Homo sapiens: one gene and its partners. The protein of the gene in region 4 purifies or fractionates together with the protein of the main gene of each other region. This does not show direct contact. Each region holds a gene or a part of one and is shown on either strand. Other genes may lie near its edges. The genes, in order: TTC39A, MCCC2, SEC24D and CARS1.

Region 1 (6,279 bases), on a different chromosome or scaffold from region 4:
AACAGATGGGCTTTCCTAACCTCTGCCTCCCTCAAGCACCTCCCTCCACCTCCCTCCACTGCAATGCTGCAGTCCTATATCTCCCAGTCAAAATCCCAGGCACCACAAATGCCTCCTCCTCCCTTGTCTTCCCAGGCTGCTCTGCCAGAAGGGCCTCTCCTGCCCCTGCTCTCTGGTTGGTTCTCTCTTGGCCCCCCCCCCGCCCCCAGTCTATCCTGTCCCTGAGTATGTCACATGTGCCTGACTTCCTGCTGGTCTGGGAGACCCCGAGGGATCCCCAGCCCCGGCCCGGACCCCCATCACTCACTGCATCAATGTTGCCTTTAATGACTTCAATCCTCCCTGCAAAGAACAGGAAGATGGCACCCTGCAATGACACACATGTAAGTCCGTGTGGGTCCGTGGGGTCTGTGGGTGTTTGTGGGCTGGGGGTACCGGGCAGCACATGGGGCTCACCTTAGGGTACCGGTTCAGGTAGGGCTTCAAGAGCTTCTCGGCCTCCTCGATGTTGACGTTCCCAGTACCTGGAGGAGATGGTGGGGGAGACACAGAACATGTCACCACCCCTGGCTCCTGTGATCCTGCCAGCAACCCAGCAGGGGCTTCCCAGGGTCTCCCCCTCCCCCTCTGTGAAATCGAGATAATTCTCCCTGTCCCTAGGGTGACATGAGGATTAAATAAGGCAGGGCAGATATCGCCCCCAGCACTTCACAGGGCTCGATAACCAGGAGCCTGCATCCACCAAGGCTGTGCCCAGAACCATAAGGTGCTGTACACAGTGTCTTCACACCCTCTACAGGGTGGGCACAACCACCCCCATTTCACAGATGAGAAAACTGAGGCTGGAACCCAGTCACACTGTGAGGCAGTGGGCGTCAGCAGGCCAGTCCCCAGGACAGTGGATGTGGCTCTGTTTCTGGTTTCAGTACCCCTATCCCTAGCCACAGGGCATGAACAGGGTCTGTAGCCCCTCGTTCTCCTTCCCCCTTGGAGACGACCAAACCCCAGGGCCCCAGGTCCCCCTGTACACCTACCGAGCACGAAGGTGAGGAAGGTGTGGTAGCACAGCAGGAGCATGACACAGAGCACAGAGCGGAAGCTGTGCCCTGACGCTCCCTCCTCCAGCTGCAGCAGCCCATAGTCCTGAGGGGATGGGAGGGTGGGTGAGGCTCCCAGAGAGGGCAGGGGCCTGGGAGGCAGCTGGACAGCTGTGTGGGCAGTGCTGCCGGCACAGGGGCGGAAGAGCACTGGAACCCTGGGGGCCAGGTCAGCTGTGTGGCCCTGAGCAAGTGGCTGCCCCTCAGTGCCCCAGCACATTCCTGGGAGAAGGGGACACGGCTGCCAAGGCCAGGACAAAGGCTTGGCGGGTCTGAGGTGTCCCCCACCTTCTCCACAGCCCCTTCCCCAGCCTCCCTGTAGTCACGGGCTTGGCCGCCCTGCGATGGGTATTGAGGGCCCAAGGTCTGGTTGGGAGCAGGAGAGACACGGAGGTGGATGATCCCAGCCATGGGCTCAGGGCATAGGTGGGGCCTGGGAAGGCTTCCTGGGGGAGAAGCCTCCAGAGCCTGGCTGGGGAGGGGCTGGGGGCAGACCCCCCACCTTGTTTCCCTGCCTGCAGTCTCTGCCCCTCTGTCTGTCCTCCAGAGCATTCTTGTTCTTTCTAAAACACAAATCTGACCTGCCTCACTCCTGCCTCAAACCCTCCATGGCTCCCCTGCCTTCGAGATAAAGAGGAAGCCCAGGCTGGCACAGTAGGTCCCGCAACCCTCCTGGCCAGGCCACACTGCCTCACCTCTGGGTCCTCCCTTCATCCTGAAATCCTACTCATGACCCATGCGCTTTCTTAAGGAAACAAAACTGAAAGAGACCTTCACAGCCTCTAGCCAATGTTTTCCAAAGCTCGGGCAGCAGATAGCAGCTAAGATTTCAGGGGTCCATGGGCAGATGCCAGGAAACACTGAGTCACGGTGAGGGTTTTCCCTTCTGTTATCTTTCTATCCTTTGGTGGTGCCCAGGAGAAATCCCCAGTCCTTTGCTCGTGGGGTTTGAACTCTCTCACCCTAAGCCCGCTTTCTCAGAAAGAGGAAGCCTGGCTGAGCCTGGGCTACACAGTCTAGCTGGGCTTTCCAAAAGATGGCTGGGCCCTCGTGGTATTTATTTTTATGATTATGTTCTTATCATGCCAAATAATATGGAGGTTTGTGTAGAGATGTTTCCTTTAAATCAATTTCAGTAAAAGTCATGAGTCACTTTTGAGAAAAGTAATATATAAATTATAATAGAGAGGTCCGTGGGTGTGGCAAATATCAGTAAGGGCCAGTGCACGTTTGAGAAACATTTATCTGGTCCATTAACAAGGCCCTTATTTTACTAAAAAGAGGCTCAAAGAAGAGAGGGACTTGCTCAGAGTCACAGAGAAAAGGGGATGAGGCTGGACTGACCCAGAGCTCCTAACTTCCAGGCCAGTGCTCCTTCTACCACACTAGGCCTCCTCCACCAGAAAGCCCTCCCTGATCTGCTGCCTTCAACCTGGGGTTGGTACTCAGGTTCTTGCCCTCAGTAAAGTCTTTGGGTGCTTGAGTTCTCTGGTTCCTCCTCAAGGTCTGATGCCCAGTAGGGCTTCCCTCAGGCATCTGCTGGATGAAGTGGTAGCACCAGAAAATGGTCCTTGGGGGAAGGACTTACTCAAAGTCTTAAAGTGAGGCAGTATCTAGGGAGAGAGGGACCAGCCCCTGACACCTGTCAGGCTCAGAGAATGTGTGATCCTGGGCCACTGATGGAGCTGCCCTTCACACCCACACCCACCCAGAGCCTCTGCACCCTGGGAGGGCCAGGCAGGGATCACTAGCCCCATTTGTCCAGAGAGAAGACTGAGGCCCAGGGAGGTCTGGGCATTGTCCAGGGCCATACAATGAGAGGGGCTGAGCCAGGATGGGCTCCTAGGCCCTGTGGCCTGTCAGCCCCACCCTGTGCAGCCCAGCCCCAGTTCTGGGGCTGAGCAGGTCAGGGGTGCTAGGAGGCAGGTGGTTACCTTGTTTCCTGAAAACCCCACAAACTCCAACAGCCTCAGGATCCTAGTAGGAAGCATGGACAGTGTCTGCAAGAAAGGAGGCAATCAAGCCTGTGAAGGTACCCAGAGTGGGCAGGGGCCACCCCCACTGTCCCAAGTCTAGCTCTTTAACAGGCTTTACCTGGAGGGGAGAGGGCCACCCCTCTAACTTTGAAAGCCTCTAGCCAATGTTTTCCAAAGCTCGGGCAGTAGATGGCAGCTAAGATATCAGGGGTCCATGGGCAGGTGCCAGGAAGCCTAGCCAGGAAACCCCTGGCCACCTAGGTTCCTGAGGCTAAATCTTCCCTGGGAAGCTCCTCCTCCCTTGATCAGGCAGTTTTCCCAGCCTTCCTGCTCCCTCTGCCTGGAAGCCCCTCCCCAGCTGGGAAACTCCTAGGGATCCTTCAGGAGCCAGCACAGATGCTCACCCCCTCCCGTAGGAAACCTTCCCCCACTCCATGCAGGAACAAGACTTAGTTCTCTGTCCCCTCTAAGTCATCAGCTGGTTTCAGGACTGTCTCCTTCCCTGACACTGGTAAATGTTTAACCAGCAGCTCTCCAGGGCAGAGAAAGCCCTGATTTATTGTGTGTGCCAAGGTCGGGTGCTGTGAAGGTTCCACCATGGTGGATTTCAAGCTACTGGCCTGACTTGGGAAGAAATGCACCGATGGACTCTGGAGCTGGCTCCAGCGCCCACACCACCCCCACCCCAGCTGTGAGCCCCTGAAGGCTGGCCACATGTCTGGTCACCTCTGGATCCTGGTGCCCAGCACACAGCCAGGTGCAGGGGCACTTGGCAGTGACCACACATGAGTCAGGGACAGAAGGGGAGACTGAGCTCAAGCCAGGTGCTGTGGAAATGGAGGAGGAGCACTCACCAGGTTGAAGGCCCCTACACCAAGCTTCACTCCTCCTTCAAAGTGCGGGTGGTTCTCACCCTTGCAGTATTGTGAGGACTGAACAAGGCTGTCCAGCTCCCTGCAGAGAGATGCCAAGTCCTGTTTCAGCCACTGCTGGGGGTGGGGGGTAGGGGCTGGGACCCCTTCCAGCTGGGCCTCAGGTAAACTCCCTGGTGGTGGATTCATACAGTTCTGGTAATCCTGAGAGCTGGTATTTGAGGAATTTCGAACCCCATCTCCCACCATGATAACACACTCCTCACCCCCTGAATTTCAGCCGTATGGGCCCTGGCACACTCAGCCATGGGCAGCTTCTGGACATTTGTTCGTATTCCACATCCTATCTAAAAGAGGTTTTCTCAGCCTCCGCGCTACTGACATTTTGGGCTGGATAATTCTTTGTTGGTGGGGGTGGCAGGGGAGCTGTTCTGTGCATTGTAGGATGTTTAGCAGCATCCATGGCCCCTGAGCACCAGATGCCAGTAGCATCGTCTCCCTAGCTGGACATCCAGAATGTCTCCAGACACTGCCAAAAGTCTCACAGGGGGAAGTCACCCCTAGCTGAAAACCACTGGGCTAACCAAAACACCTCCTCCTTCAGGAAGTCTTCCTGGAGTCTCCTGGTTGGAATTCAACTCTATTTCTCCTGGTTACCAACTGCACAGAGCCCCTAGCCCAGCCACCTGGGGCAGGACAGAGGCTTTTAATGATGTGTCTGCCTCCTTCCTGGGCTGACAGCATTTTGAAGGCTTTCAATTAGCAAGCTTGAAGCTTCTCTGTGCCAGGCACTGGAAGACAGCAGGGACCAAAACCACCAAGCCATTGCCCCCACAGCATTCTCACTTTAAGGGACAGACCCCCCCCCCCCGCCCCCCGATTGAGTCACTATGAGGGTGATGACAGGCTCCAAGGAGAAGAGTCCTTGGGCCTGACTTAGTCTGGGGATAGGAAAGGCTTCCCTGAGGAGGTGACATTTGAGCTGAAATCTGGTACAGAAAGCCCGGTGCAGAAAGTGTTTCTGACAGAGAGAACAGCACGTCCAAAGGCCCTGAGGTCGGAACCACCTTGGCATATTTGAAGAACTGGGGGAAGGCCCAATGACCTAAGGCAGAGTGAAGTGGGAGATGTGGCAAGAAGGGCCAGGGTGACCTCCCAGGAAGAACTTGGCAATAACCCAGGACTTCTTTTAAGAGCAAGAGGAGCCTTGGGAGTTGGCAAGGGGTGGCCTGACAAGGTGTGTGCTTTGGTGACCTCGTTCTGGCAGCTGGTAGGGAGGCTGACGGGGCCAGAGCACTTGTCTGGTTTTTCTAGAAAAATTCTAGCATAGGCCTCCAAGGTAACATGATGTCCACATGCTATATGGTACATTATACCCTAGCAATACCTTGTAACAAGCTCACAATATCCCTGCAGGGAAGCAGCCACATTAAATGGGGAGATAAAGATGATAAATAGGCCAGGCGTGGTGGCTCACGCCTGTAATCCCAGCACTTTGGGAGGCCGAGGCAGGCAGATCACCTGAGGTCAGGAGTTCGAGACCAGCCTGGCCAATGTGGTGAAACCCCATCTCTACTAAAAATACAAAAAATTAGCCAGGTGGGGTGGCGTATGTCTGTGGTCCCAGCCACTCGGGAGGCTGAGGCAGAAGAATCGCTTGAATCTGGGAGGCAGAGGTTGCAATGAGCTGAGACTATGCCACTGCACTCCAGCCTGGGCGACAGAGCAAGACTCTGTCTCAAAAAAAAAAAAAAAAAAAAGACTTTTTTACTTTTCCTCTTTTTTTCATTTTGTTTTTACTGTGATAAATATACATATCATGAAATTTAACATCTTAACCAATTTTAAGTGTACAATTCAGTGGTATTAACTACATTTACATTATTATGCAACTATCCCCAATATCCATCGCCATGAATTCTTTTCCTCCTGTAAAAGTAAAACTTTATTCTCTGTCTTTTGGTCTACAGCTTCATATCTATCCTTAGCCCCCTTTGCCATGTTATTCCTCTATCTCTCCTGCCTGATGGAAAAAGCATGAAGTAAATTATCTGCCTTCTCTGTGGTGCATGTGGACTACTGAGCAGGTGTAGTAAGATTGCTGTCACTGTAAATTTATCATCACCAGCTTCAGCTGGGCTTCTCCGTACTGCCAGTCACTCTTGTGCTGTTTCCATAGTGATTTCTCCATAATCCTCTTCATATTTCAAACCTTATCTACTCTCTATAAACCTCTTGCCGCCACCCCCCCTTTTTTTTTTTTGAGATGACGTCTCGCTCTGTCACCCAGGCTGGAGTGCAGTGGCACGATATCAGCTCACTGCAACCTCCGCC
Region 2 (5,712 bases), on a different chromosome or scaffold from region 4:
CTGTTGGCTCGGTTTTTTTCTTACACCACTTAATGAGGTAATAAATTATCATGCCTGTCCCAGCTGAAGACCTGCTGGTGCCTGCTTTCACATCTTTCTTCAACAACTTTAGTGTTCTGCATTCCGAAGACTAATCTAAGCTTCATGTCTTCCTTTCATCCCTTGGGCAGATGGAAAAAAGAAAGTAACTCTTTCTGCATCTTGTAAAATTAGCTTATGTTGTAATTTATGCTGGCGAAGGCAAACTGGAGAGGAGAGGGGAGAGAAAAGAAAATCAGGCCAGGCACAGTGGCTCACACTTATAATCCCAGCATTTTGAGAGGCCAGGGCGGGCAGATTGCTTGAGCCCAGGAGTTCGAAACTAGCGGGGCAACATGGTGAGACCCAGTCTCTACAAAAAATATACAAAAATTAGCCAGGCGTGATGGTGTGCACCTGTAGTCCCAGCTACTCAGAAGGCTGAGGCAAGCAGATCAGTTGAACCTGGGAGGTCAAGGCTGCAGTGAGCCGAGATCATGCCACTGTGCTCCAACCTGGGTGACAGAACAAGGCCCTATCTCAAAAAAAAAAAAAAAAAGCAAAAGTTAGAGTCCATTACAATCATTTGAATGGTTCCTTGGTGGATACAAAGACAAAACATACTGATTTTCAAGAACATAATTAGTTTGAGGAGATAAATAATACCATTTGGGTGTGTGTATGTGTTTTTGTTTTTGTTTTCTTTAAAGACAGAGTCTCACTCTGTTGCCCAGTTTGGAGTGCAGTGACGTGATCTCAGCTCACTGCAATCTCTGCCTCCCGGACTCAAGCAATCCTCTTGCGTCGGCCTCCAAAGCTGGGACTACAGACATGTGCCACCACACCTGGCTAATTTTTTTGTATTTTTTGTAGAGATGGGGTTTCACCATGTTGGCCAGGCTGGTCTTGAATGCCTGAGCTCAAGTGATCCTGCCTCGGCCTCCCAAAGTGCTTGGATTACAGGCGTGAGCCACCTGTAATCGTGGCTGGCCAATATTTGGGAATTTTTAAAGGTTTTTTGCTGAATATATATTTTTACAAACAAATTTACAGGTATATTTTATTGTGGTGGTTTGATTCATTTAATTAAGAACAAAATATTTTATAGTCTTTGAGAGCTAAACATGTTCCTGATTTTATCATCGTGTAAACAGACATATAGTAGCCAGTAAATGGAAAGAAGCAATAGAAAGCCGTATAAGAGGTTTGAGATGAAATATAAAATATATATTGTTAAGCTTTTCTATAGTTTTTTTTTTCCACATAAGATTTTGACTGAAATACACAGGGACAGCTGAAATATTAAAGTTTGAAAAATTGTGTATTTTGTGTGAGCTGTTAGCTTGTTTTTCAGCCCTGGCTAAGATAAATCATCTCTTGAGAAAGATTGCATCTTTTATTATTTTCATACTAACATTATTATTATTTTTTAATGGATTACATTCAAGGCAGAAGAGTAAATGGCCCAGAGAGACTTATCTTTGGAAATAAATGTTAACAGACAGTAAAGTTTTCTGTGGATCTGTAGATTTTTTTTTTTTTTTTTTGAGACAGAGTTTCTTGTTGCCCAGGCTGGAGTGCAATGGCATGATCTCGGCTCACTGCAACTTCCGCCTCCTGGGTTCAAGGGATTCTCCTGCCTCAGCCTCCCGAGTAGCTGGGATTACAGGCGTGTGCCACCACGCCTGGCTAATTTTGTATTTTTAATAGAGATGGGGTTTCTCCATGTTGGTCAGGCTTGTCTCGAACTCCCAACCTCAGGTGATCCACCCGCCTCGGCTTCCCAAAGTACTGGGATTACAGGCATGAGCCACTGCACCTGGCCAGATCTGTAGATGTTTAACCCTTCTGTTGAAACAGCTGGTGGCATGGAGACAGCAGCTTTCTTTCAAAGCTGAAAGGATTTCCAAGCCAGTTTATGGTACCTTCCTTGGGTTTAGTAAATCTCAGCTTCACAGTAAAATTCCCTGGCCTGCTTAGGTTTGAACATGGCTAGATCTGTCTTTTCAGAGACAGAGCTTGTTATTATCAGTTACTGAAACCTACAATGTTTTCCTTAATCCTAATAGGTTACATATGTAGCGTGCCAATTTGCTTCTGCTCAGTTGTTTTTATAATCAAACTTTTATCCGGCATTTCATTAGTGCCTCTTACCTGGGGCAGTCTTTTTAATGAACATTATTAAGCAGCCCCTTCATCACCATGCTTGCTGTGCTGCAGGCTTCAGAGGGAGTGTAATCAATTCACCTGGTTGCAGATGACAAGAGTGGCTTTCTTTTTATTGGGTGTTGATACTTTAGGGTCCCTATTATGAATGTTTTATGAGCAAAGGTTTGATTCATGTCTGTCAATGTAAGAATGGTTTAATAGTTGATGCCAGGTTCAGATACCGAAGGGAGTTTATATAAAAAAAGCAAACTGCCACCTACTAATAACCTTTAAAAAGTAATATTTCTCAGTCATTTTTCGTTATACATTTGAGGTTGTCAATGAGAAGGAAACTAAAATTTCTACTTAAAAGTTTCTTCTGCAAGCAGTTTAAAGTTATTGTTTTTCCTATTGTAGCAAAAAATAAAGACCTACATTTGAAGGTATCTATTTTATTAATAAAATGTACTGAAGCTGGCCGGGTGTGGTGGCTCACGCCTGTAATCGCAGCACTTTGGGAGGCTGAGGTGGGCGGATCACCTGAGGTCAGGAGTTCAAAACTGGCCTGGCCAACATGGCGAAACCCCGTCTCTTCTACAAATACAAAAATTAGCCAAGTGTGGTAGCGCACTCCTGTAATACCAGCTGCTAGGGAGGCTGAGGCAGGAGAATTGCTTGAACCCAGAGGGCGGAGATTGCAGTGAACTGAGATCGTGCCACTGCACTGCACTCCAGCCTGGGTGACAGAGCGAGACTCCATCTCAAAAATAATAATAATAATAAATAAGATAAAATGTACTGAAGCCTATTCAATAATTTTCATAGTTTCTTAAGAGTTTGGATGGGGGTTGGGGAATATACATTTTCCAGTAAAGTTTGAGGTTATTACCTGGGTATATGTGGTTCTGCATATTAATGACAGAATACACCAACTTGGCTTATATATTTGTGTGGGAAGAAAAGGAATAGGAAAATTTTTCCTGAAATAAGTAAACGTATTGTCAAATTAGGGGTTACTTTGAGATCTCTTATAAAAGTAGTTCCTTAAGCCTTAAGCCTGACATGACATTCTGTGGTGGCCTGGGATGAAGGTCATATCATTTTTTTCCACGTTTTCCCCCTCTGTCTTGAACGTAGTTTCTGTTGTGAGATTATGGTACATGGATGCTAATCAGTAGATCCATATATTACCTGAAGGAAAACTTCCTTGGCATTTCTGCACATGGAGAGTGTATAAATGGTAGTTTGGTGGTAAATTCATAACTCTTTTTTTGTTCTTTTGTCAGGGTATGGGATGATGGGATCATTGATCCAGCAGACACCAGACTGGTCTTGGGTCTCAGTTTTAGTGCAGCCCTCAACGCACCAATAGAGAAGACTGACTTCGGTATCTTCAGGATGTAACTGGAATAAAGGATGTTTTCTGTTGGACATGTACTGAAAATTAACACATGTAGTAGCCTTAAAATTTTAGACTTCTCGAACATGAGGCTGTTACAGTAATTTTTTTAACACTGTGCATTGTACTTTTCTACCTTAAAAAAATCAGTGAGGATATTTATTTAATGAACATCAATTCCTTTTAAATTTTCTTAGAGAAATTTCTCTGTGGCTCAGTTTTACCACCCATAAAGCGGAGACAGTAATTTACGGTTATCCTTTCTGACCCACAAAGTATGAAAAGTTCTGTAATCTGTAAACTCAGTTCTGTAATCTGTATTATTGAGATGATTAATATAAAGTTGTATTTTCACTGAAATGATTGTTTTGCTGGTTATGCTTGGTGATATTTTAGCGGGCTTATTTTTGAAAGGCATCTGTTACTTCAGTGGCATAAAGTGCCCTCACACTGCTGTGCAGCCATCACCACCATTCATCTCCAGAATTTGTTCTCAGTCCCAAACTGAAACTATACCATTCAAACAACAGCGCTCCCCATTTCCCCCTCCCCCGAGCCCATGACATCTCCTTATTATTATTTTTTTTTTGAGACAGGGTGTTTCTCTGTTGCCCAGGCTGGAGTGCGGTGGTGTGATCTCGGCTCACTGCAGCTTCCACCTCCCGGGTTCAAGCGATTCTTGTGCCTCAGCCTCCCAAGCAGCTGGGACTATAGGCACGCACCACCACACCCAGCTAAGTTCTGTATTTTTAGCAGAGACGGGATTTCACTAGGTTGCCCAGGCTGGTCTCAAACTACTGACCTCAAGTGATCCACCCGCCTCGGCCTCCCAAAGTGCTGGGATTACAGGTGTGAGCCACCGCGCCTGACCACATCTCCTTATTCTTAAATGTATGTGTTTCTCATGGTTTGATTTATTCTTGCTGGGCCATTTCAGCCCCTGTCATGGCTTCACTCGCCATCTAAATGCAGATGATTACTGCCTTGACGGTTCTTAACCCAGCTCTCCCCTGAGCTGCAGGCCTGCATATCCAGTAGGTCTACTGGACATCTGTACTGGTTGTTGTGGAGGAACCTCTGGCTTGCTCATTAAGTCCTACTGATTTTCACTATCCCCTGAATTTCCCCACTTATTTTTGTCTTTCACTATCGCAGGCCTTAGAAGAGGTCTACCTGCCTCCAGTCTTACCTAGTCCAGTCTACCCCCTGGAGTTAGAATGGCCATCCTGAAGTGAAAAGTAATGTCAGATTACTCCCTTCAGTGATTTCTTGTAGAAGTGCCAATCCCTGAATGCCACCAAGATCTTAATCTTCACATCTTTAATCTTATCTCTTTGACTCCTCTTTACACCGGAGAACGGCTCCAGCTGTTCTAGCTCTCTTTCAGTTCTTTGAACCTTCCCACCTTAGGGTCTATAAGGTTCCCTCTGCCCAAATTGTTCTACTCTCCCTTCTTCTTCAACACATCCTTCAGTTTAAGCACTTGCTTCTCTCAGTTTAAACTCCACTTCCTTAGGGATGTCTCTGTGACCTCCCTGTGCTGGATTAGCTTCCCTACTCTATGCTCTTGTAAAACACTATCTACTTCCTTTGTCATAAACTCATCATTTTCCTATAAACATTAATATTGTCCTCCTGCTAGAATGTAAGCTCCGTGAGAGCAAGGATCCTCCTGTTTACCCTGTACCTCCAATGTCTGGCACTTGTAGGTGCTCAAATATTCGTTGAATGAATGAAAAATCCATATTGTAATTGATGTCCTCTGGCCACATAGTTTTAAAATTAGGTGATTGATTATATGACCGAATAGAACTATCAAATGTTTTCCTAATAAAGTCAATATTTCAAACATTTGTGTGTGATATTTAGTATTTTAAACATTTGTGTGTGATGTTCAATGTGTACCAGGAAGTCAATTTAGTTTTTGTGGGGAGAATATAGATAGATGATCAAATTCAGTGGTAGGTTACATTTTCAGAAGCAATACATTAAGTATATTAAAATAGTAATATTAAAATTTTAATGAAAATGCACATCTATGTCAAAATGATTTTCTATATAAAGACTAGGTAATATTCCTTTGGTAGGAACCATTAACAAGTCAAGGATTCATGGATATTTTAGGACTGCTTTTGCTTTTCTGGGAA
Region 3 (6,279 bases), on a different chromosome or scaffold from region 4:
ACCAACCTCGGATCAAAAATACTCAGAACCAAATATTGCATTATACTGAATATGTACAGACTTTTTTCTTGTCATTATCCCCTATAGGATAACAATTATTTACATAACGTTCACATTGTATTGGGTATTACAAGTAACATAGGCAGGGCACAGTGGCCCAATGCCTGTAATCCCAGTGCTTTGAGAGGTTGAGGTGGGAAGATCACGTGAGGGCGGGAGTTCAAAATCAGCCTGGGCTACATAGCAAGACCCTGTCTCTACAAAAAATTTAAAAATAAGTAACCTACAGGTGATTTAAGGGACACGTAAAATGTGTGTAGGTTATATGCAAATATGCCATTTTATGTCAGGGACTTGAGCATCTGGTGGAGTTTGGTATCTGTGGGAGGTTCTGGATCAAATCCCTCACAGATAACGAGAGACAACTGTGTGTGTGTGTGTGTGTGTGTATATATATATATAGGAACCATATATATTTATGGTTCGGCAATTCCATACTTCCTAAGTGTTTGGTGATAGAATGAGCTCATTCATCCTCAGAGTCAAATATCAATGTGAGCTTTCATAATGGAGAAAAATATATTTTATGTAAAATATACTTAAGATAATGTTTTTAAAAGTGACTGCATATTTGTTTTAAATTATTGGGATTTTAGGGATCAATTCATTACACTTCTCTTTTCCAAGCCTGATTGAGAGAGATATTCAAGAGACAATCAAAATGTCAGCACTATAATGGGCCTGAGTCTGCAGGCAAGTGGGCTTGCTGATTCACCCCTGAATTTCACAAACTTATGCGCCCCGGCACAGAGTGGGCACGATCTGAGTTTCTCCTGTGGACCCCTGTGCCTTGAAAAAAACACTGTATTGAGGGACAGAAAATATGTGCCTCCTGCAGGCAAGCTGCCTTCCTATGGAGAGGACCCAGAAGAGGCTGGGCTGTGCCCACCCAGTTCCTTTTCCCAAACTTATTAATCAGATGAGTCACTCCCCATCACCTAAGGAGAAGGGGTCAGGGGTGTACCTCTAATGTGTGTGCCTGGGCAGGCGTGGAGGCATGGACTGGGAAGGTGTATTCTCCAACATAAATGACAAATGTTAGTCATCATCTGTTTTTATTAATCATCAATAAAATTATGAATAGAGACTAGTTACATATTTCTTTATAAACTAAGGGACTTGATAAGACCAAAGATTGTAAATGAAATAAAATTGAAAAAGCTTTAACAACTCTTTCTAAGACTTCTGGATAAAAGTATGTTTTTTCAGATACACTCTAGAAAATAAACTTTTAATAATCATACAGAATTCTGACCCTTACTGATTCTACCCACATTCTGGGTATTGAGGTACATGAAGCCTACCATGCTAATCAATTTTAGCTCCTTTTCCAGTTAGGGGGATAAATTTCATCAGAAGCTTTCCCCCCCCCACTTTTCCAAAAAGGACTTTATCATCTTCCATTCCTGGCATATGTGAATTGTGCTGGGGTTCTTGCTAGGTCCTTTGCTATGTACTGGTGTGATCATCTACATGGTAGTGACTTGGCTTCAAAGAGCAGCCTACCAAGTGATGTGTAGGCAGGGGGTGCTCTGTGGTGTAATCATCCAGGCTTATTACTTTTTTTTTTCTATTTAAGTTTTTGAGTTACTTGCCAACCCCATGTCATTTCTGATATAAAAGGATATTTACTTGTACCTCAGTGTATCCATAATTATTACTGATTCTTTCAATGTTACTAAAAAAGAAATGTTATAATGCAGCAGAGGAAAAGCCAGTAAGATGTAAACAGGCAGTAAAATATTTTATAATAAAAGAGTGTTAATGTTGCCTATGCTGCCATTCAGTTGTTTGTTTACTCCAGTTGTTGCAAAACTGAATCCTGCCGTAGCATTTCTTTCTTATCTTCAACAATACAAATTTTAATAGTCTTTTCCATTCAATAACATTGTAAGATAAAAATGATGGTCAAGAACTATGCAGGCACCACCCAGTTGTATGTAAGCAACTAAAGGGATTATTGTAAAGATTGTGTCTATGATCTCCCTCTTTCCTTTCCTCCTTCATTCCCTTCGTGTTTGGGACTGGGGGGAAGGGATGAGATGCGTGCGTCAGTGTCTCTCCTATGTGTCAAGTAGTAGTGAGAATTTCCTAAAGAGTTTCACTGACAGATGAGAAGCTTTAGAAGCTCAGCTAGTTTGTTTCCTCTCTTGGGTGACCTCTGAGCTCAGTATTGTGCACATGTGCATATTATATAAATGTTGCTTAGTTGTGGAATGTGGACAGTTTTCAGAAATACGGTGATCGTAGAGTAGTTAACAGGGCTAGGAGAAGGGGTTTCTACTTTCCCTGACATAGCTTCACAAAGCTCTGAATGTGGTCAGACTTAAAAAGCCCCAATTGCAAGGTCTTTCCCTAGCCTCATTAAACGGGTATTATACATTGGGTCTTAACCTTGTCTCTAACCCTAAGCCACTGAGTGGATCACTTATGCTCTCTTAATTTTCCCATTTGCAATTAATAACCGATTTTCTCATCCAAGTGTTAAAATGAAAGAAAATAATAGATGAGATTTTAGTTTCAAAAGTTAAGAAACACTGTCCAAAAATGCTATATTTTCTTTAACCAAAGAAGCATAATATATAATAAAAAAATATGCTAAATCGGGATTTTAAAAATAATTATTATAACTCAGGATTAAAATGAGAACGTTATTTTAAGTATTTTACTGCCATCTGGTGGACATTGATTAGACTTTTATTTTTTAGATGCACTTGGATAGACAACAATTTTTGAACGACCTCAGAAATGATATTGAAAAGAAAATAGGCTTTGATGCTATTATGAGGGTTCGTACCAGCACAGGTAATTATCATTTATACAATTCTTCGGGTCTCTCTTGAATAATTGTTTCTTTTTCAAATTAATAACAGGCCAACAAAGAAAATAACAGTAGAATAAAGACAAGCAAAATTTCCCTTTTTCCCTTATCTTTAGGTTTCAGAGCCACTGATTTCTTTGGTGGAATCTTGATGAACAACACCACCGATGTAGAAATGGCTGCCATCGATTGTGACAAGGCAGTGACCGTGGAGTTCAAGCACGATGACAAACTCAGTGAAGACAGTGGAGCCTTAATCCAGGTGATTGAAAGTGTATTCCCACCTTTCGTTATTTTAGTTTGTTGCCGACAATGATCAGTGGGGAGACTGAAATACCATCAAATGTGTTAGTCTCTTCATAAAAAAATTCAACTCTTTCTCCAAAGTCAAAAGTCAGTAGATTAGAACACTCAGTTGGGAGGTTTCTCCATACTCATTCATATTTGCTACTTATATGAAGTGACAATTATGTGTCATTGCATGCAAGTCCAGCAAATTTGTGGTAAGTATCACAGGCATCAGCAAACTGACTTCCAACGGTATTCACTTCTGTTAGGCTTCAGCACCTATTCACATCTACCATATGAATATTAATTTGCTAGGGCTGCTATAACAAACACTACAGAATAAGCAGCTTAAACAACAGAAATTTATTTTCTCACAGTTCTGGAGGCTGGAATTCCAAGATCAAGGTTTCTGAGGGCCTAGAGGGAAGGATCTGTTCCAGGCCCCTGTCCTTGGTTTGTAGATGGTTTTCTTCTCCCTGTGTCTTCACATCATCTTCCCTCTGTTACATGCCTATATCCAAAGTTTTTCCTCTTATAAGGACACCAGTCATAGTGAATTAGGGTGCACTCTAATGAACTCATTTTAATTAATTTACCTCTTTAAATACCTCATCTCCAAATACTTAGGTACTAGGGGGTTAGGACATTTGAGGAGCCACAGTTCAGCCCGTAATACGATGTTAAGCAAGTGGAATAGGATTTGGCTTTCTTTAAAGTGAAACTAACTAGAAGCCATAGAGACTGAATTAAAACAAGAAAAACTATGACCACTAGATATACATGGTCATAGTTTCCAAACATTGGCATCATCTTTAAAGGATGAAGAGAGGCTGGCATTAGGTTGAAGAAGAACTTTTAACTAAAGTTTATTTTTTAATCACATATATTTGGTGAAATGCTTCTATCTATGCATTCTTCAAATGTATATCATCAGCATAAGACCTAAGTCCATTGTGAAAGCTAGTTGTATGTTTTTAAGAAAGTGAGCCTTGAGTAGGGCTCTGAGCACATGAAGGTATTGTTTCTGCCCCTGGATCCCTGGTAATAAAACATGAGCTATGAAAAATGCAGACTAGTTGTAGAAATGTGAAATAGATATTTACATGTGAATCACTCAACAATTTAAACCAGTGAAGTGCTACATTGAAACCCAGCAAATGAATGGGTCATTATTCTCCCATATTTCCTGTTGTTCATTCTTTAACAATAATAGAAAAAAAACTGTGGAAAAATAGTTAGAGGTCTTTTATCTATCTGTACACAGTGTTTTGTAAATGCAAGTAAGATCAAGTTAGCTTGGGTGGATATGTTAATCAGAAAAACATGTGACCTCAATGTTGCTTCTACAGTGTGCTGTGCTTTACACGACAATCAGTGGTCAAAGAAGACTTCGGATTCACAATCTTGGCTTAAACTGCAGCTCTCAGCTAGCTGATCTTTATAAGAGCTGTGAGACAGATGCTCTTATCAACTTCTTTGCCAAGTCAGGTAACACTTTGCCAATCCTGAGGTTCAGTAAACCTTGCTTAGTAATTCAGTCAAGATTTGTCAGTAGCTAAAAAGCACTGTAGTTTTGCAACCTTATGGTGGGTAAATTCAGAACTAATAAAAGCAAAGGCTGAGAGAGAATAGTCAGCATTCCTAACTCTAAATTAATAAGTGAGGTAACTCAGTTCAGGGTCTGGCTATACAGACTTACTTAAAGTTAACTTCTGGGGTGGCAGTCTGAGTTGAAATTTAGGAATATGATGCTTAGACCCTTATTATGGTACATGATCATGCCCTCTGACACATTGGGTTAATGGACAGAGACGATCTCTAATGTTAGACTAAACTTGCTTATCCATACCATGATAACTATGAAATAGAATGGGCCCAAGGTGGAATTTTCTTTGGCTTTCCTTGAGAAATTCTACACTAAAGTTTGGAAAAGGTAGCAATCCAGCCCGTAAGAATTCAGGACATCAAAAAATGACAAATTGGCCTGTCTTTTTTTCTGTGTGTACAATTCTAATATTCTGAAGGTAAATCTGGCCAATATAACCTTTTGCTGTAGGTAGGCCAATGTTCTCCATTAGTTAGATCATCATATTTAGTCAAGAGGAGACCATTAGCAAATGACTTGAACAGATTTAAATGCTATTATTCTTGCTGGGTGGTCTGAAGATAATAGCAACTTGTTCTTTTTTGTTTGATTATTTGAAGAGATCAGTGTCTGAGCTAAAACTCATGTCCTTTTCATTGTTTTGTGATGTAGCTTTTAAAGCAGTTCTCCACCAGCCTTTGAAGGTCATCCGGGAAATTCTAGTTAATCAGACTGCCCATATGTTGGCATGTTACCGGAAGAATTGTGCAAGTCCTTCTGCAGCAAGCCAGGTGAGCTACCTATTGCACATAGATGTTAAAGTGTTACAAACGACTACTCATTTCTTCAGCACATAGCTATAGAAGGCTTATGATGTTGCAGGCACTTAGATGCTGTTACAGTAAACAGTGTAGCTGAGAAGATTAAGAATGCAATTTGGGGGGGCTGTGGTTTTTTTTTTTATAGCCAACATTTAAAAATGTGAACAAAAAAAATGGATGTGCATATTCAGTTGACAGTCACTACGGTATGTATAAACAAAAGAATGTTATATGTAAGAAGTGTCCTAATATAAACAGGATTCTGTTTTGTATCCAGAGATGGGTATTTTGTTATGAAATGTGTATGCTTAAATACATTTTAGGCATATTAACAAAGTTGACATGAGCTGATGGCAGTAATAACATTTTATAAACAAATATAATTTATAAATATAAATACAGGAATTCTTTACATTTAAAAGTTATTAATAGGTGTGAAGAGTTTTCAAAGAATTGACTCTCTCCATCATCTAGTAATTTGAAATTTTAGAAGATTCTTTGAATAAACCTCATTTAGTCTCTCTCCTATAAAAGGAAAAGCAGAACCTCAAGTCCACATTTATTTTGCATTTGCTCTCTTGTTCACATTCTTCTCTATGTCAATAAAAGTTAGATGGCATTTTTTATAGCTGTGTATCAAATATGTGAATATAGAATTCCAACTAAAATAGCAATAGATGGGAAAACTTTCTAGTTCATTCATT
Region 4 (5,277 bases):
AACTCTGGGGAAAGCTCTAGACAGTGGTGAGTGGTCTGCAGGTCCATCCTGGTTGGCAGGTTGGGAAGAGCTGGGCTTGCCCTGTGAGGTTGGCTGGTGTGACTGCCTCATCAGGGCCCCTCCCCATTCCATCACAGTCACTCACCTAGCCTTGGGTCTCGCCTGCCGTGCTGTGCTGTGAGGTGGCCTGGTGCTGGCTGTGCAGACGCCCTGGCTTGCTGCACTCCCTGGCAGAGTGCTCAGAAGCAGGAAACAGACAAGAGGAGCGCCAGGGTGGCCCGGCCAGAGCCTCACAGGCCTTGCACTCTTTGTGCTGGCCTTTCCACTGGCCACCTTGGCTGTGGCCTGTGACTTCTAGTAGCTCCTGTTTCCCAACCAAGGGACTCTTACCTCACCAAGCTGCTGCAAGAAGGCATCCCCAGGCCCGAGGCACCATGGGGGAGGGGTCCTGCCTCTCCCTGTACCATTCCCACCAGCACATAAACACATACTAACTTTTAAAGGGAAAAAGCAGAAATCCTGAGCACTGTGTCTCTGGTTCCTCCAAGCTCAGTGCCCAGCTCCTCCCCCACCTCAGCCCCTTTCCCTCGGCCAGCCCTGCTCTCCCTCCATCTATCTCGAAAGAGCTCGATCCTGTTGGCCCCAGCCCCATCCTGAGTCTCTGAGACCTTTGTGCCTTCCTGGTTTCTTTTCCCTAGCTCTGTGTGTGGCGCCTCCCCAGGAGACCTTATCTGGTCCTGCGGCTTCTCCACCATCTATCTTGTAGCCGGTGGCCCAAAAACAGTTTGCCCAGCTGCCTACCTGATAGCTCCACTGGGCCAGGAAGCCTCTGATATCTAGGCTGTCCAAAGTAAATGTGATTTTCAACTCCCCAAACTTGTTCCTCCTTCCTGCCATGGAGGGCGTGCCTACCTGATAGCTCCACTGGGCTGGGAAGCATCTGAAACCTAGGCTGTCCAAAGGAAAGGTGAAAATGTGATTTTCAACTCCCCAAACTTGCTCCTTTTCCGTCAGTGGAGGGCATGTCTGTTCGTGCAATGGCTCAGGCCAGAACCTCCCAAAGCAACCGAGGGCTTCCCTCACCGGCACCCAGCCTGCTGGCTCCACTAATAAGCTCTCCCTGCAGCATCAGACTGTCCTCGCCCCTGCCCGGGTGCTGCCTGCTGGTTGGAGTGGGCTCTGGTCTCCTCACCTAGCCCCCAAGGCTGCCCTCCGCCCACCATCCCCATCCTGCCCTGGCGCTCTTGCTCCTTCCCAGGTACCCCAAGACCCACTCAGGATAACCCTCACAGTGCTGTCCTGGTCATTGCCTTACAGATCCTCTCTCCTTGGGCCAGGCTCACCATGCTGGTCCATTTCTTCATGTTAGTGGTGCCTGGATCTTTTAGCATTGGTTCTGTTTGTCTGCCTGCTGCATACCTTTGCATCTAGGGCAGGGCCAGGCACCCAGGGGTGCCGCTGAGGATCCCCAAAGGGAATGGAAGAGGGTCGGTGTGCTGCCCGGCACATGGGCTTGTCTCCCCACAGTGGGGAGGGCCTGGTCAGAGTTCAGCCCTCCATGCCAGGCCCTAGGAGAGGGGCTTGTTTGGCTAGACCTCTCACTCCGAGAGACCCAGCAGCCTGAGGCAGCCCTGTCTCATCTGGCTCTGTATTGACCCTCCAGGTTGAAGAGGAGAAGAGGAAGAAGAAAGAGGAGGCGGCCCGGAGGAAACAGGAACAAGAAGTAATGCATTTTGTTTGGGGGTGAGGGCTCTACTGGGCAGGAGTGCACCCTGACCCCATGCCCTGTGGCTCTCTGTGCCTCCGTGGACCTTAGCCAGGCCCCTGCAGACCCTCACAGAAGGAGCTCCGCTTTCTGCCTCCACCACCCAAGGCCTGCCAGGCCCTTCTCACATGGGGTGCAGGGAAGGCCTGGCCAAGGGGAAGGCTGTGCCATGTGGTCACAAGCTCCAAGACAGCGTTTATAGACTTACTACTATTAGGTTTTCTAGTAAGCTTTCCACTATTCCTGTAGAAATAACATCTGGTTTAATTTTAAATTCCTTGTATGTTCCCTCCACCTTGGCTTTCCCCTTCCCATCTTTCATAGCACTCTGAATCTGAGGGCTTGGAAGCAAGTTGAGGGCTGGAGGTATGAGCAGATGTCGTTCACAGTGCGGAGCCCCAGGTGCTGCTCGGGGGCAGTGACTGTGCCGTGTTGCGTGTTCTAGGCAGCAAAGCTGGCCAAGATGAAGATTCCCCCCAGTGAGATGTTCTTGTCAGAAACCGACAAATACTCCAAGTTTGATGAAAATGTAAGCATGTAAGCATCCTTCTCTTCTATTCAGAACTTGATCAGACCACATTAAAGTGGGAGGACAGGAATTTTCAACCTTGGACAAGCAGATTTTCTGTCTGTAGAAAATTTGGAATCAAATCTGACACCCGCTTTAGGTCCAGGGCCTCCTGGCCCAACTACTGAGCTCCTTCCACAGCCCAGGCAGCTAGGCAAGCCCGTGCCAGGGCCCCCTCCACTGGTGTGGTGAGCTCTGGTCCCTAGCCCTGGGAGTTGTGGCCCCGGGCCAAGATCCACCCAGGCCCTCACAAGCTGGCTGAAGTGCCGTGGCGCAGATAGGCCTCCTACCCCCAGTTTCTTCCTTTGTCATAGCGATTCACAGCCACTGCCTCCAAACCTCTAGGCCCCTCCCTGCTGGCATTTGGATGTGTTTGCTATGTACCTTTGGGCCAGCTGTGTCAGAACTCAGCCATGGGTAGGCTCTGAGGGGCACAGTGCCCCTCACCTTAGGCAGGAAGCACCCCCAGACTCTGGTCGCCCCTCTCCCATTCTTAGCTGCTGGAGCCAGCACTGCCAGATGAGTGTGCTGGCTCCAGAGCAGTGTGGTGACTGAATGTCCAAGCAAGAGGACATGGCTGCATCAGGGAGATAGACACTTTGAGACGGGAGGGCAAAGAAAGGGGAGTTGGGGTTACCCAGGTGCAGAGGAGACCAATAGCCGCTGTGCTCTGGGTTTTCAGGGTCTGCCCACACATGACATGGAGGGCAAAGAGCTCAGCAAAGGGCAAGCCAAGAAGCTGAAGAAGCTCTTCGAGGCTCAGGAGAAGCTCTACAAGGAATATCTGCAGATGGCCCAGAATGGAAGCTTCCAGTGAGGGGGCACAGGACTGACTTTTTAAACCATTGTGGACTAGTGGCTGCTGTCTGCCTCAGTGACAATGTCCCAGCGCTCCTATCATGTTTACAGTCACCCTTGGGTCCTAAATTAAGAGTTGTGTTCATGTAGGTTCGTGTCGTCGTTGGCTCTGAGACATTGATAATAAATTTTTCTCAACAGTGAGACCCTCTCTGTCTTGTTCTGCATGTTCAGCACTTGGCAGGAGGCCTGGTGGCCAGCCAGGGCCGCTTGGTCAGCAGGTCACAACTTAGGTGCTTGGGTCAGTTGAGCTGCTTCAGCTGGCCGAGGAATTTCTCCCCCATGCTGATGGCTATCGGCTAATCTCTGGTGTGTGGGCACATTGGGAGGTATTTGAGTAGGAAAAAGACAGGCTCAGACTGGCAGAGCCTGCTGAGCCCTAGACAAAGGCCGCTCAGTCTGCCCTCGGGTTCTGATGAATAAACACACTGCAGGTTTTCCTAGAGCCGTTCCATACTGGGCAGCAGCACAGCGAGTGGCTCAGCAGGCAGGCCCCTGGCGAGCTGCCCAGAACTGCCGCTGGAGACAGCAAGTCCAGGATCTGCATGGCTAATGAGTGAGTTGTGGGGGTGGTCTCAACACAGCAGGGGCCTTCTTGTCCCCAGTGCCCAGTGTTGTCCTTGCCACCCTGCCTCCACACCTGGTTCACCTGGACTAAGAATCACCACCCAGACGCGAAGGTGCTTACCCATCCTTGGCTGAGGAGGGCGTAAGCAGAAACCACAGCCTGCTTCATGCCTGCGGAAGCTGGTGCCAGGCCATATCCATCGGGACAAAAGACAGTCATTGGTGCTGTGGACATCCAGGGGGGGACACTCCATCCAGTGCATGTGGATGGTGGCAGCAGCCTCAGCATGGGGAGTGTGGCAGTGTTGGGTTGTGGGTGCGCCAATTCTTTGTCCTTGCCCTCCGCATGCGCATGCTGTTTACTGCAGTAGTGTGTGACACAGCAAAAGGCTGGAACCAGCCTGTCTGTGCATCAGCAGGGTGCTTGGCACAGCTTGAGAGCACCCACCCAATTATGCAGGGAGCACTAAGGTTATAAATCAATGAGGACAGTCTCTGGGTATTGATAGGCCTGACTTTGAACCTTGTCAGTATTTTATATATAAAAAAATTTAAACCAGCAAGAAAGAAAAGTCCCCCAAACAAAGTAAAACAAACATGTTCCAGTTATCTGTTGCCACTTAACAAATCACCCCAAAACTTCATGGCTGAAAACAACAATGATCATGTTAATAACTCATGGCTCTGGATTGACTGGGCTCAGTTGATTGGTTTTCAGTTGCAGGCAGATGGGGTCATCTCTAAGTTTGTGCCTGGGTCCCACACTAGGGCTGCTTGGGCACCTTTTACCTCTGTGAGACCTGTGTGTGATCTCTCCAGCTTGGCGGCTTCACGGTGGCTGATTTCTGTTGCAACAGCCTATAGCTCCAAAGGTGCGAGTCCTGAGAGAGAGAGAGACAGGAGCTATATGGCCTTTTAGGATCTAACCTCGGAGGTCATGTCCTGACTTCCACCGTCCTCCCTAGCGGAGGCCGTCACAAGGCCCACCCACGTTCGTGCGGAGGGGGAGGCATAGACACTACCCTGTGGTGGGCATTACTGGGTTCCAGAAGGGATGGGAAATACTACTGCAGCTATTTCAGAAAGTACCATCTGGCACAAAAACATAAATCAAATTGGCAACCTCAAGAAAAGAACTTCAACTTTCTGAGAATTGGCCATTTTTTGCTACACATCTTTAATGGGGTATCTTCTAAGGTCAAAGAAAGTACAGAAAAGTCAATTCAATAGTTTTGTTGTTAGTAATAACATTGGCATTATAATTTTCAAACCCTGTATGCCAACACAAATAAGATCACTGACACCCAGGCTGGAGTGCAGGGAAGCAATCTTAGCTCACTGCAACCTCCGCCTCCCGGGTTCAAGCTATTCTTCTGCCTCAGCCTCCCAAGTAGTTGGGATCACAGACACGCGCCACCATGCCCAGCTAATTTTTGTATTTTTAGTAGAGATGGGGTTTCACCATATTGGCCAGGCTGGTCTTGAACTCCTGACCTCAAGTGATCCGCCCGCCTCAGCC

Evidence for each region.
Region 1: the proteins of CARS1 (region 4) and TTC39A fractionate together in Homo sapiens (co-fractionation; one large-scale study listed by BioGRID). This does not show direct contact.
Region 2: the proteins of CARS1 (region 4) and MCCC2 fractionate together in Homo sapiens (co-fractionation; one large-scale study listed by BioGRID). This does not show direct contact.
Region 3: the proteins of CARS1 (region 4) and SEC24D fractionate together in Homo sapiens (co-fractionation; one large-scale study listed by BioGRID). This does not show direct contact.

Annotation. Positions count from the first base shown.
Region 1 is NC_000001.11:51,302,050-51,308,328, forward strand, and holds part of TTC39A (tetratricopeptide repeat protein 39A), read right to left. Parts: intron 4,028-6,279; coding exon 3,928-4,027; intron 3,098-3,927; coding exon 3,032-3,097; intron 1,144-3,031; coding exon 1,035-1,143; intron 525-1,034; coding exon 457-524; intron 368-456; coding exon 308-367; intron 1-307.
Region 2 is NC_000005.10:71,653,291-71,659,002, forward strand, and holds the end of MCCC2 (methylcrotonoyl-CoA carboxylase beta chain, mitochondrial isoform 1 precursor), read left to right. Parts: intron 1-3,452; coding exon 3,453-3,570; 3' UTR 3,571-5,416; downstream 5,417-5,712. UniProt on the Homo sapiens protein: Carboxyltransferase subunit of the 3-methylcrotonyl-CoA carboxylase, an enzyme that catalyzes the conversion of 3-methylcrotonyl-CoA to 3-methylglutaconyl-CoA, a critical step for leucine and isovaleric acid catabolism.
Region 3 is NC_000004.12:118,737,527-118,743,805, reverse strand, and holds part of SEC24D (protein transport protein Sec24D), read left to right. Parts: intron 1-2,768; coding exon 2,769-2,865; intron 2,866-2,997; coding exon 2,998-3,143; intron 3,144-4,518; coding exon 4,519-4,657; intron 4,658-5,426; coding exon 5,427-5,545; intron 5,546-6,279. UniProt on the Homo sapiens protein: Component of the coat protein complex II (COPII) which promotes the formation of transport vesicles from the endoplasmic reticulum (ER).
Region 4 is NC_000011.10:2,998,987-3,004,263, reverse strand, and holds the end of CARS1 (cysteine--tRNA ligase, cytoplasmic), read left to right. Parts: intron 1-1,663; coding exon 1,664-1,723; intron 1,724-2,089; coding exon of another isoform or gene 2,090-2,122; exon of another isoform or gene 2,123-2,210; coding exon 2,211-2,294; coding exon of another isoform or gene 2,295-2,302; exon of another isoform or gene 2,303-2,371; intron 2,372-3,015; coding exon 3,016-3,150; 3' UTR 3,151-3,335; downstream 3,336-5,277. UniProt on the Homo sapiens protein: Catalyzes the ATP-dependent ligation of cysteine to tRNA(Cys).